Regions from separate parts of the Homo sapiens genome. Here region 1 is linked to region 2. The links come from fine-mapping of genetic effects on gene expression. A gene starts in region 2. The other region holds a variant in brackets. All regions are shown on one strand. Distances are from middle to middle.

Region 1 (5,357 bases), 32 kb before region 2:
AGCTGCCGGGCTCCTCTGGTTTGTCAAGAGAAGCCAGAAATATGGACTTTTATGTGAAATCTCCTGACTTTTCAAAGTTGGCAACCAATTTAAATTCTTCCGAAACCCTGTTCTCAGCCAAACAAAACATGTCTGCCGGCCGTTCTGCCCGCGCCCCGAGGCCCAGTTCTGGTAGAGATCATGTTCAGGACAAAGCCCAAGTGGCCTCCTGCGACTGAGACAGGGTCGGGGGAGAACTGGCGAGTAGGCTCCTCTGCCTGGCCAAGGGCCCTGGTCTCCCTGCGACGGGAGGTGGGGGAGCCAGGAGGGCAGCTGGGCTGTTGCGCACGTGGGGAGGCAGTGTCTGGCATGCAGTGGCGGGAGCTCAGGGTTCCAGGTCCGCCTAGGGACGAGTGGAGTGCAGGGTTCCAGGTCTGCCTCAAGGGGGGTAGTTCATGGTTCCAGGTCTGGCTAGGGGTGGGGGGAGTTCAGGGTTCCAGGTTTGCTTAGCGGAGGGGGTAGTTCAGGGTTCTAGGTCTGCTTAGGGGAGGGGGGAGTTCAAGATTCCAGGTCTGCCTGGAGGGGAGGTTCAGGGTTCCAGGTTTGCTTAGCGGAGGGGGGAGTTCAGGGTTCCAGGTCTGCTTAGGGTCGGGCTGAGGTCGGGGAGCAGACACCGCTTAGGCTGGTCCACATAAGAGGGGTTGCTACGAAGAGGCAGGGCTCCCAAGGGAAGCCCGGGGCAGGCAGAGGAGGCCGCCCCCCTGCCACCCCGAGAGCTGCCCACTCTCACAAAGCTGCCTTCTCCTGCCCTGTCTGCTCTGGGGTGATTTCCACTGAGGGGCTGCTCCCCTTTTTCCTGCTCCCCAACAATCTTGGGGCATCGTACCTATTTGGACTGACTCTCAGTGGACTCAAGTCTCCAGGGCCCAGTAGTAGTCCTGCCTGTGGGCTCCTATCAGGAAGGGGATCGGAATCATGTTTCCTTCCCAGGCCTGTCTCAATTCATAGTCTCAGGAGAGCAAATCTGACTGGCTGAGCCAGGCTATGTAGATGGCTCAACAACTATAATCTCAGCACTTTAGGAGGCCAAGGCAGGAGGATCCCTTGAAGCCAGGAGTTCGAGACCAGCCTGGGAAACATAGTGAGACCTCCGTTGCTATAAAAAAATTAAAAAGTTAGCCAGGTATGGTGGTGTGCACCGGTGGTCCCAGCTACTCGGTAGGCTGACGTGGGAAGATCACTTGTGCCCAGGAGGTCGAGGCTGCAGTGAGCCCTGATCACAACACTGCACTCCAGCCTGGGTAACAGAGCAAGACCCTGTCTCAAAAAATAAATTTTAAATTAAATTAAATTAAGAAAAACCCAGCTATGTCCAGGGTACGCTATCACCTGATACAGTATGTCCCCCTTACCAGGCCCACCCTTTCCTCGAAGGCTGTAGATGGGGATAGGTCACCTGCAGGAGAGCTCATGACAGGCCTATGGTGGGGACTGCTTGTCCTGACCTCACCCCCAAGCCCCACAGGCCCCACTCTGGGCCCTGAGAGCTACCAGGGTCCTGATGGATTTTTCTTCGTGTCTGCAGTCTCCAGGAGAGAGGAGCTCGCCTACGCAATGCAGGAAGTTGCAGCTTTAGAGCAGAGCCCAGAGGGAGCTACCTCCCAGGGGAGCCAGGACCAGGGGATCAGGAGTGTAGGGTCTAGAAGGCAGGGTGAGCACCTGGAGCCTGCTGAGACCAGGGGTCAGAGGCCGGAGAGTTCAGGCAGGTAGACCCCAGTGCCAGGAAGTACCAGGCAAAGGACAAGGAATTCCAGAACCCAAGTGGCATAGAGGCCACAGGATAGTCAGGCCCGATGGTGGCTGTGACCTGAGCAGTCATGGGGGGATCTAGGGAGCTGGTGAGGCAGACCCAGTGGCAGAAGACATGGCCCGGAGCCTTCAGAATACGGGGCTACAATCCAGAGGCCCTGGGGCAAAGGGTGTGAGAATCCAACCCCAGGCTCAGAGTTTTGAGAACGCAGGGGCCTGGAAACTTTCTGGGCGGACAGCAGATGTTGTCCTGCTCAGCTGGAGAAGTCCCAGGCTGGACGCATGGGAAACTCCCACAAAGCTGGCTGAGGGCTCCAGGTCCCCGTGGAAACACAGATGGCAGAGGAGGGCCTGCTGGAGTCATGGCAGACAAAAGCCCCGAACCCCACTCCACCCTCAAGTCAGCTTCCTCCCAGCAGGCAGGGACCTCGCCACAGTCCTCACAGGGCCGTCTCTTGCCTCGGCTGCCTCCACCTCCAGCCTAGAGGCAGGACAGGCATCGCTGGCCCCTTGGATGGCTGAGAGCAGAGACTCGGAGAGGGAAATGAGCACAGTGTGGGGGTGAGGCTGGGCTGGGCCTGAGGATCCTGAGAGTTCCCGTAGGCTGTGCACTGAGGAGGCCCAGGGCCCCGGGCAGCTGCTTCCCTCTCAGCCTGGAGGCCCCC[G/A]GGGTGCCTGTGGCAGCCCCTCCTCGAGAGCCCCCTCCCCAGGGTCATGCAGATGTGCTGCCCCCCAAAGGGCTACCCTGCCCACCAGGCCCCCTGTGAGCTCCCCAAGTCTTGTCAGGGTCACCAGTGAGTCCCCAGCACCCAGCTTAGAGCTTGGCTCATGGGGATCCTCAGAGGATCTTTAGTGTGTTTGCTGAATGAATCCAGAGAGCTCAGGAGACCCGGGATCCGTGCTACTTTGCTGTGCCAGGAGTCCTTGGGGCAGGCACCAGTTTCTGGTCACCTGTGAGTCCCAGGGCCGGACCCAGCCCATGTAAGGAGTCCATGCAGGGAGGCTCCAGCTGAGAGGCCTTCCAGTGAAGGGGTCAGGGAAGTCCACCCTTAGCCTTTGGGAGAGGGACCCGGCCCTGCTGGAAGCTGCATCTTCTATACCTAGGTCTTGTCGGCGCAATGCCTCCTGGTGCCAGTGTGCAGGGTGGGCTGGGGGTCCAGAGGCAGGCTCAGGAGCACTGAGCCCCCGCAGACTCTTGGCCACCTCTGCGAGGCTGTTTCTGTAGGGCAAAGGGTTTGCTATCTCCTGATGCCATTTACATAAACTACAGGACCGGGCAGACGAATCGATGTGTTGGAAGTCAGGGCGGCGGTGCCCTTGGGGGGACCGGTTGGCACGAGGGAGGTGGCGGGGGCTGGGGACTGGGTGGGGACGCTCTGCAGCTCGGTCTGGGCACAGGTTATTTTGTGAAAGTTTCCTGAAAATGTGTTGAGCTGTGCTCACAGGACAGGTGCACTTCTCTGTCCGCGTTTGCACTTCAATAAAGTTTAAAACTGAACCAGCAGAGGACATGCAGCAAGAGCCGTGGCAGGCGAGTCTCTCCCGGTGACAGCCCTCACCCTGCGCGGGGCAGCCTCCGTGTTGCCATGGAAACTGACCTCGGAGACAGCGATTCCGGGCTGGGGTGGGGGCTCTGCGTGGCTCCCGGCCTGCATTCCTGCGGACAGGCACCCTCCGCGTGGATGGCACCCTCCAGGACAGAGCCGTGCGCGCTTCCTGAGCCGCCCCGGTGCCCGCCCTCCGGGAGGTGGAGGCAGCCTCCGGACCGCAGCGCGCAGGGGCCGGGGAGCCGGGGAGGGAGGGGTGACACCGTCGGCGCCGAGGCCCGGCCGCGCTCCTGTCCCCCCGCCCCCCGCCCCCGAGGCGGGGCCGCCGCGGCTCCTCCCCGCCCACCTGCCCCGCCCGCCTCCCGTGCGAGGGTCCGGCGGCGGCGGCTCTGCGGCCTCCCAGTCCCCGGCGTCCCCGGCGCCCCCGCCCGCCGCCCGCCCCCCGCGCGGCACGGGGCCTGCTCCATGGGTGAGTGCAGGCGGGGACCCGGCGGACGCGGGGCGGGGTCCTGGGGGGCCGGGCCGGCTCCTAACCTCCTCCGGGGAGGGCCCGCTCCAGGCAAGGGGGTGGGCGCCGACCGGGCTTCGGGCCGCTCGTACCCAAACTCGGCCCCCAAGTCGGGGCCTGCCTCGGCAGCACCCCGCTTCTCCTCCCTCCCCCCGCCTCTCGCTGGTTGCGCCGCTCTGCCCCCACCGCGGTGCACTCCAGCCCCCAGGAAGAGAGGCAGCTTGGAGGGGGCCAAATTCAGGGTCAAAGATGAGTCTTGGGGAACGGGGGTCGCCCCAGACCTTCGGGGGCTCCTCTGTCTCTAAAGGGAGCGATGCAGGGCGTAAGGTTCTCAGGGATCTGGGATCTTGGAGCCCCTTCCCCCCAGCAGCCCTGCCGGGACCCCCTGGGAAGTCTGGGGCCCCAAAAGGTCACTGAGCGCTCCCCCACTTGTCCCCCAGACTAGAGGGACAGAGGGAGAGAGCAGCGTATTTCCAAAGATGTTTTCTCCCCGTGGAATCTGGATAATTTCCCTGAGGACTGCAGGAGAAAAGGGCTCTGCAAACGGATTCCCGTGCAGATAAGTTGGCATTTAAAAGAGAAAGGGACGCTGACCTCTTTTGAAGGGAGGACTGAGGAGATCACCCCACCCCTCCTCCGGTTGGGAGGCCAGTGGGGCCCAGGGGAGCCTGGGTGCCCCGCTGACTGATGCCCTCTGCTCCTCCCCTGCAGACGACCAGAGCCCCGCTGAAAAGAAGGGACTGCGCTGTCAGAACCCCGCCTGCATGGACAAGGGGCGGGCGGCCAAGGTAGGGAGGCTGGAGAGCCTGGGGACCCTCGGGGGCAGAGGGGCCAGGGCTCTAACTGCCCTTTCTATCCCAGCACCAGCTATCCACAGAGCCCTGGCACGGGCGCGGCTGGCTGGGCTGGGTTCAAGTGTAGGTGGGGCCACAGTGTGTCTGGTTTAGGAGGCAGAGGGCCTGCCCCCAGCTCAGGAACAGTGGAGTCGGGGGACTTCTACAAGAACAGGGGGGTGGAGTACCCCAAAGCCCTTTGCTGCACTGTGGTCCTAGCAGCCATTCTGAGGTGACAGGAGCTGTAGCCTTATGTCACGGATGAGGAAACTGAGGCTTAGCCAGGGGAAGTGGTCTCCCACGGTGCTGGTCCAGTGCCCAGATGGCACCCTTCCTGTTGAACTCAGCCACTCTTCAGGCCTGGGCATGGGTCTGAGATGCTTTGGGACTTGGCGAGTGTGACCATGGCCCTGGGGATGACAAAAGGAGGAAGGGGCCAGTTGATCCTGGAGTGCCAGGGCTTGGGAGCTGGGAGTGGGGCGAAGTATAAATCAGGGATAAAGGGGGCAGGAAGGAGGATAATAGTACTGGCTGGGCGCTTCTGCCTGTGATGTGCTGGGCTTAGTGCCACCCGCTTTCTGTGCCATATGCACTGATTGCGGCAGCTCTGCAGGGAAGGCATCGTCACCCCGTTTTCCAGATGAAGACACCAAGGTTCAGAGAGGTCCAGTGACTTGGCCAAGG
Region 2 (5,357 bases):
GGCAAGGCAGATTAGGGAGATGCTGGTCACAACCCATTCTGTCCCATGTACCCCAACCTTGCCTGCAGAACCAGCTGCAACAGCTGCGTGCACAGGAGCCCCCAGGCAGTCAGCAGCCCCTGCAGAGCCTGGAAGAGGAGGAGGATGAGCAGGAGGAGGAAGAGGAGGAGGAGGAGGAGGAGGAGGAAGGCGAGGACAGTGGCACTTCAGCTGCCAGCTCCCCTACCATCATGCGGAAAAGCAGCGGCAGCCCCGACTCTCAGCACTGGTACGTCTGCTCATGACCACCCAGCAGGTCAAACCAGGACAAGTACTCTAGCCCAGGACTCCTGAAGGCCCAGCCACGCTCCCTTCCTCCCAATGGCCTCTTGTCATGAACACTGTGGGAGCGGGGCTCTGTCTCCCCCAGAGTCCGGGTGGGGAGGGCAGACACCTTTCCATGTGCTGCCAGCCCTGATCCATTCGTGGTAGCTGCCTGGGGTGCTGTGCTGAGGATCCTTAGGGCAGATCCAGCCTTGGCAGGGAAGAGTGCTGGGCTCGCTACTGAGGTCTGTTGTGGGCACTGGAGCTGGAAGATCTGCCACACCTGCCACATGCTGCCATCTCTGAGCCTCCAGCCCCAGGAGGGCAGAGGGTATAAACCACCGTGCATTGCCCAGCCTGGGGCTGCCTCAGGCCATCTAGGTTTCATGGCCTGGGCTGACTCTGCTCCTGGCCCCACAGTGCCTCAGATGGCTCCACGGAGACCCTGGCCATGGTTGTGGTAGAGCCTGGGGACACGCTGTCCTCCCCCGAGTTCGACAGCGGTCCTTTCAGCTCCCAGTCTGATGAGACCTCTCTCAGCACCACTGCCTCATCTGCCACGCCCACCAGTGAGCTGCTGCCCCTGGGTCCGGTGGACGGCCGCTCCTGCTCCATGGACTCTGCCTACGGCACCCTCTCCCCAACCTCCTTACAAGACTTTGTGGCCCCAGGCCCAATGGCAGAGCTAGTGCCTCGGGCCCCAGAGTCCCCACGAGTTCCTTCCCCTCCACCCTCGCCCCGTCTCCGCCGCCGCACCCCTGTCCAGCTGTTGAGCTGCCCGCCCCACCTGCTCAAGTCTAAGTCCGAGGCCAGCCTCCTCCAGCTGCTGGCAGGGGCTGGCACCCATGGGACACCCTCTGCCCCCAGCCGCAGCCTGTCAGAGCTCTGCCTGGCTGTTCCAGCCCCAGGTATTAGGACTCAGGGCTCCCCTCAGGAAGCTGGGCCCAGCTGGGATTGCCGAGGGGCCCCTAGCCCTGGCAGCGGTCCTGGGCTAGTCGGCTGCCTGGCCGGGGAACCTGCAGGCTCCCACAGGAAGAGGTGTGGAGACCTGCCCTCGGGGGCCTCTCCCAGGGTCCAGCCTGAGCCCCCACCAGGGGTCTCTGCCCAGCACAGGAAGCTGACCCTGGCCCAGCTCTACCGAATCAGGACCACCCTGCTGCTTAACTCCACGCTCACTGCCTCGTGAGTGGCCTGGACTGGGGTAGGGCAGGTGGCTCAGGGCACTGGCATGGGGGCCCACTCATGCCTGGGAGCATCGCATTTGGGGAGGGTCATGGCGGAGGGAGCCTGAACCCTGCCCAGTGTCTGGGCGCAGGGGGCTGTGGTGGGCAGCAGTGAAGGGGCCTGAGGAGTGCCGTGGGGAAGAGAGGGTGACCAGAGCCACTCTGAATGGCGTCAGCCAAAGAAGGACTCTGTCCCCTCCCCACCCTGTAGGGAGGTCTGAGCAGAGGGAGGCCCCCAAGAGTGCCATTGACCAAGAGACAGCAGACAGCCTGCCTCCTGGGGCGTGCCGGCACCTGCTTCAGCTACTGCCTCCTGTATGCATGAGCCGGATGCTGGGCAGGATCCCTGCCTACGCCCGGGCCCGATTTGCGCTTTGCCGGACTGGATGGAGTGGAGGAGGCCCAGGCCACAGTACCACCCCACCTGCCCAGGCAGCCCCTCGTCACCTACTCCCCGAAGTTACCAGCTCAGCTCGAGTCTTCAGGGCTGGGCTCCTAGGCTGCCCATCCTACTTCTACCCTCACTGGCCTCCAGTGGGATTCACTCCTGCCCTGCCCCCACCTTCCCAGTCCCACAGGCCACCCCTGGCTTGGGCTGGGTTCTGTGAAGTTACGTATTTATTGAGCTTTTGGTTCTTTTATAAAGACTTGTCTAGACTCCACTGGGAAGAGTCCTTTGCTTTGGGGCCCAGTGACTCGGGGCACTTGAGTTCAGGGCGGCCTCCTTGTGTTCCTGTGCTCCTCCACTTGCCACGGATGGGCCACGGATGGAGCTTGCCATGGGAAGCACTGGGAAGTAATGGGGTGTGGGGTGCCACCAGACCAACACCCCCAGACTTCCCCACCTTCAGCCACCATCAGAGCCTCTCCCCAGGTGCCCCCCGGGGATTCAGGGCTGAATCTGCCCAGTTCCCACACTCAGGCCAGCCCTCTTGGGAAGGTGGGTCCTCCATGGGGGTCCCTTCAGGAACTTTTTTTTTTTTTTTAATACAGAGTCTCACTCTGTCACCTAGGTTGGAGTGCAGTGGTGTGATGTCGGCTCACTGCAACCTCTGCCTCCCGGGTTCAAACGATTCTCCTGCCCCAGCCACTCTAGTAGCTGGAACTGCAGGTGTGCACCACCACGCCGGGCTAGTTTTTGTATTTTAAGTAGAGACGGCATTTCACCATATTGGTCAGGCTGGTCTCGAACTCCTGACCCCAAGTGTTCCGCCCGCCTCTGCCTCCCATAGTGCTAGAATTACAGGCCTGAGCTACTGCGCTTGGCCCCTTGCGGTACTTTTGGCCCAACCTCCTCCATGGCTGGGGACGCGGAGGCCGAGAGAGAAGTCACTTGCCCTGGCTCTACCTTGAAGTGGTTCTCAGGGTTGGGGCGAGAGTCGGGGTGGGGACCGAGATGCAGCTCTATCCTGTGCCCCTGGTCGCAGCAGGCAGCCCAGCGCTTCGCGTGTTCTACTTGGCCTGTCCGCTGCCGCCTAATGAGCTCAGGTCTAGGCCGAGCAGAGGGGGCACCTGGTCGGACTCGGTTGGGCTCGGGCGGCCCCGCCTCCCCCCGCCCGCCAGGCGGGCCCTTCTCGACGGCGCGGGGCGGGCCCTGCGGGCGCGGGGCTGAAGGCGGAACCACGACGGGCAGAGAGCACGGAGCCGGGAAGCCCCTGGGCGCCCGTCGGAGGGCTATGGAGCAGCGGCCGCGGGGCTGCGCGGCGGTGGCGGCGGTGAGTTGAGACGCAGGAGGCTAGGGGCAGCTTTGAGCCCTGTCCCAAGAGCCTCGGTGAAGGAAGGGGCCCCGGGCGCGTCTCCACTCCAAGCCTCACTGGGGGCTGGGTTGGCCGCCCTTTCCGATCTCGTTAAAGGCTCCTCCAGGGCGTAGCCCTTCCACTGAGAGGAAACCCCTCCCAGGAGGGTCTGGGGGCCCCAGGCAGAGCATTATCAGTGTCCCTCCCCCAACAGAAAGCATGGGTGGGGGTGGGGGCGCTGCTGGATTCCTGCTCTGGTGGAGGGGAAACTTGTGAGGGGCTGGTAAGCGCCCCCTCCGAAGCCTGGTGTGTGCGCGGGGGGAAGGAAGTTAGTTTCCTCTCCACCCATGGGCACCCCTTCTGCCCGGGGCCTGGGAAGTGGGCTGCTCTGTGGGCAAATGCTGGGGCCTCTGAAATGGAGGAGACGCAGCAGGGAGAGGCCCCACGTGGGCAGCTGCGCTGAGAGTCAGCAGCACCTGTCCCCCAGGCGCTCCTCCTGGTGCTGCTGGGGGCCCGGGCCCAGGGCGGCACTCGTAGCCCCAGGTGTGACTGTGCCGGTGACTTCCACAAGAAGATTGGTCTGTTTTGTTGCAGAGGCTGCCCAGCGGGTAAGTGGCCACAGGGGTGGGAGAGGCATGGGGCAGGCAGGGCTGGAGAGGTGGCGGGCAGGCCCGGGAGGTAAGAGGAGGCTGGCAGGGGAGGTAGGGGTAGGCTGACAGAGAAGTAGGGAGCTGGAGAGAAAGAGGGAGGGAGGGCAGGGTGGGAAGCAGGTCGGGGGTTGCTGGGCAGCCCCTCTGCCTGCCTGACCCCTGCCTGGTTCCACAGGGCACTACCTGAAGGCCCCTTGCACGGAGCCCTGCGGCAACTCCACCTGCCTTGTGTGTCCCCAAGACACCTTCTTGGCCTGGGAGAACCACCATAATTCTGAATGTGCCCGCTGCCAGGCCTGTGATGAGCAGGGTGAGGGGCTTCTCAGTGCTTGGCAGGGAGTTCCTAAGGACAGGCCTTTCTGAAGGAAGTGGCTGGCTCGGGCCCAAACTTGGGGTGTGAGGGTCCTGCACCCACCCTTGCCAGAACCCTCCACCCTGATCCTCCTTCAGGGTGCCCTTGCCCCTTCTCTCTTCCTGGTGACCTTCCCATCTCTCCATGTGCCTTGGCCTCTGGTCGGCCTTAATCTCTGAGCTTCTCTCTTTTTTAGGGTAGCCCTGTACCTGTCTGTCTTTCGCCTATTTCTGTCTCCATTATCTTGGGATAATGCCTCTGCCTCTCCATGGGAGCCTTTGGCCCTGACTAACTCTCCACTCCCCATCTCCCTGCACCCCCACCAGCCTCCCAGGTGGCGCTGGAGAACTGTTCAGCAGTGGCCGACACCCGCTGTGGCTGTAAGCCAGGCTGGTTTGTGGAGTGCCAGGTCAGCCAATGTGTCAGCAGTTCACCCTTCTACTGCCAACCATGCCTAGACTGCGGGGCCCTGCACCGCCACACACGGCTACTCTGTGAGTACCCCCACCCAGGGCTCTCTACTCCCAGACCCCCTTCTCCCTGCCTGACCCACTCCTGTCCCATGGTGACGCATGCCTCTCCTGGATTGCAGGTTCCCGCAGAGATACTGACTGTGGGACCTGCCTGCCTGGCTTCTATGAACATGGCGATGGCTGCGTGTCCTGCCCCACGTAATTCCTAGCTGTCGTGGGATGGAGGGAAGGGCGGCTGGGAGCAGAGCAGGGGCCTGGGGTGGGGCAGGTGCTGCTGGTTCAGGAATAGGAAGAGGGGATAGGGAGGAGGGAGCCTTGGCCCTGTGATGGGTGGGCCCCACTTCAGGCAAACTTAGATGGCAAAAGAGCAATCTGGATCCGCCTTAGCCAGATACATAAGGGTATTTGCCTTCACTTTCAGCCAGCATTCCCCCCAGCGATCCTAGCCAGATATTACAGATGATTTGTCACTTACACAGAGAGTCACATTGATATAGCTTTAAAACTTGGGCTGAAGGAGGTTGAGGCTGCAGTGAGCTATGATCGTGCCACTGCACTTCAGCCTGGGCAACAGAGCGAGACCTATTAAATAAATAAATAAATATTAAATCTATTAAATA

Evidence for each region.
Region 1: its variant is fine-mapped to the expression of TNFRSF25 in whole blood (TOPMed, PIP 0.99).

Annotation. Positions count from the first base shown.
Region 1 is chr1:6,495,764-6,501,120 of GRCh38, reverse strand. It overlaps a transcript of PLEKHG5 not described here. Among named protein-coding and RNA genes, the nearest start is that of PLEKHG5, 6.8 kb to the right of the region's middle. RefSeq lists a silencer at 3,252-3,341 and an enhancer at 5,045-5,357. The variant G/A (reference allele first, on the strand shown) is at 2,454.
Region 2 is chr1:6,463,953-6,469,309 of GRCh38, reverse strand. It overlaps TNFRSF25 (TNF receptor superfamily member 25), which reads left to right and starts at 3,137. Exons shown (of 10, transcript NM_003790.3): 1 at 3,137-3,241; 2 at 3,750-3,870; 3 at 4,088-4,222; 4 at 4,591-4,758; 5 at 4,857-4,935. The coding sequence starts at 3,203. PLEKHG5 (pleckstrin homology and RhoGEF domain containing G5) reads left to right here. Exons shown (of 21, transcript NM_020631.6): 19 at 69-268; 20 at 724-1,485; 21 at 1,738-2,188. The coding sequence ends at 1,747. RefSeq lists an enhancer at 2,368-3,316.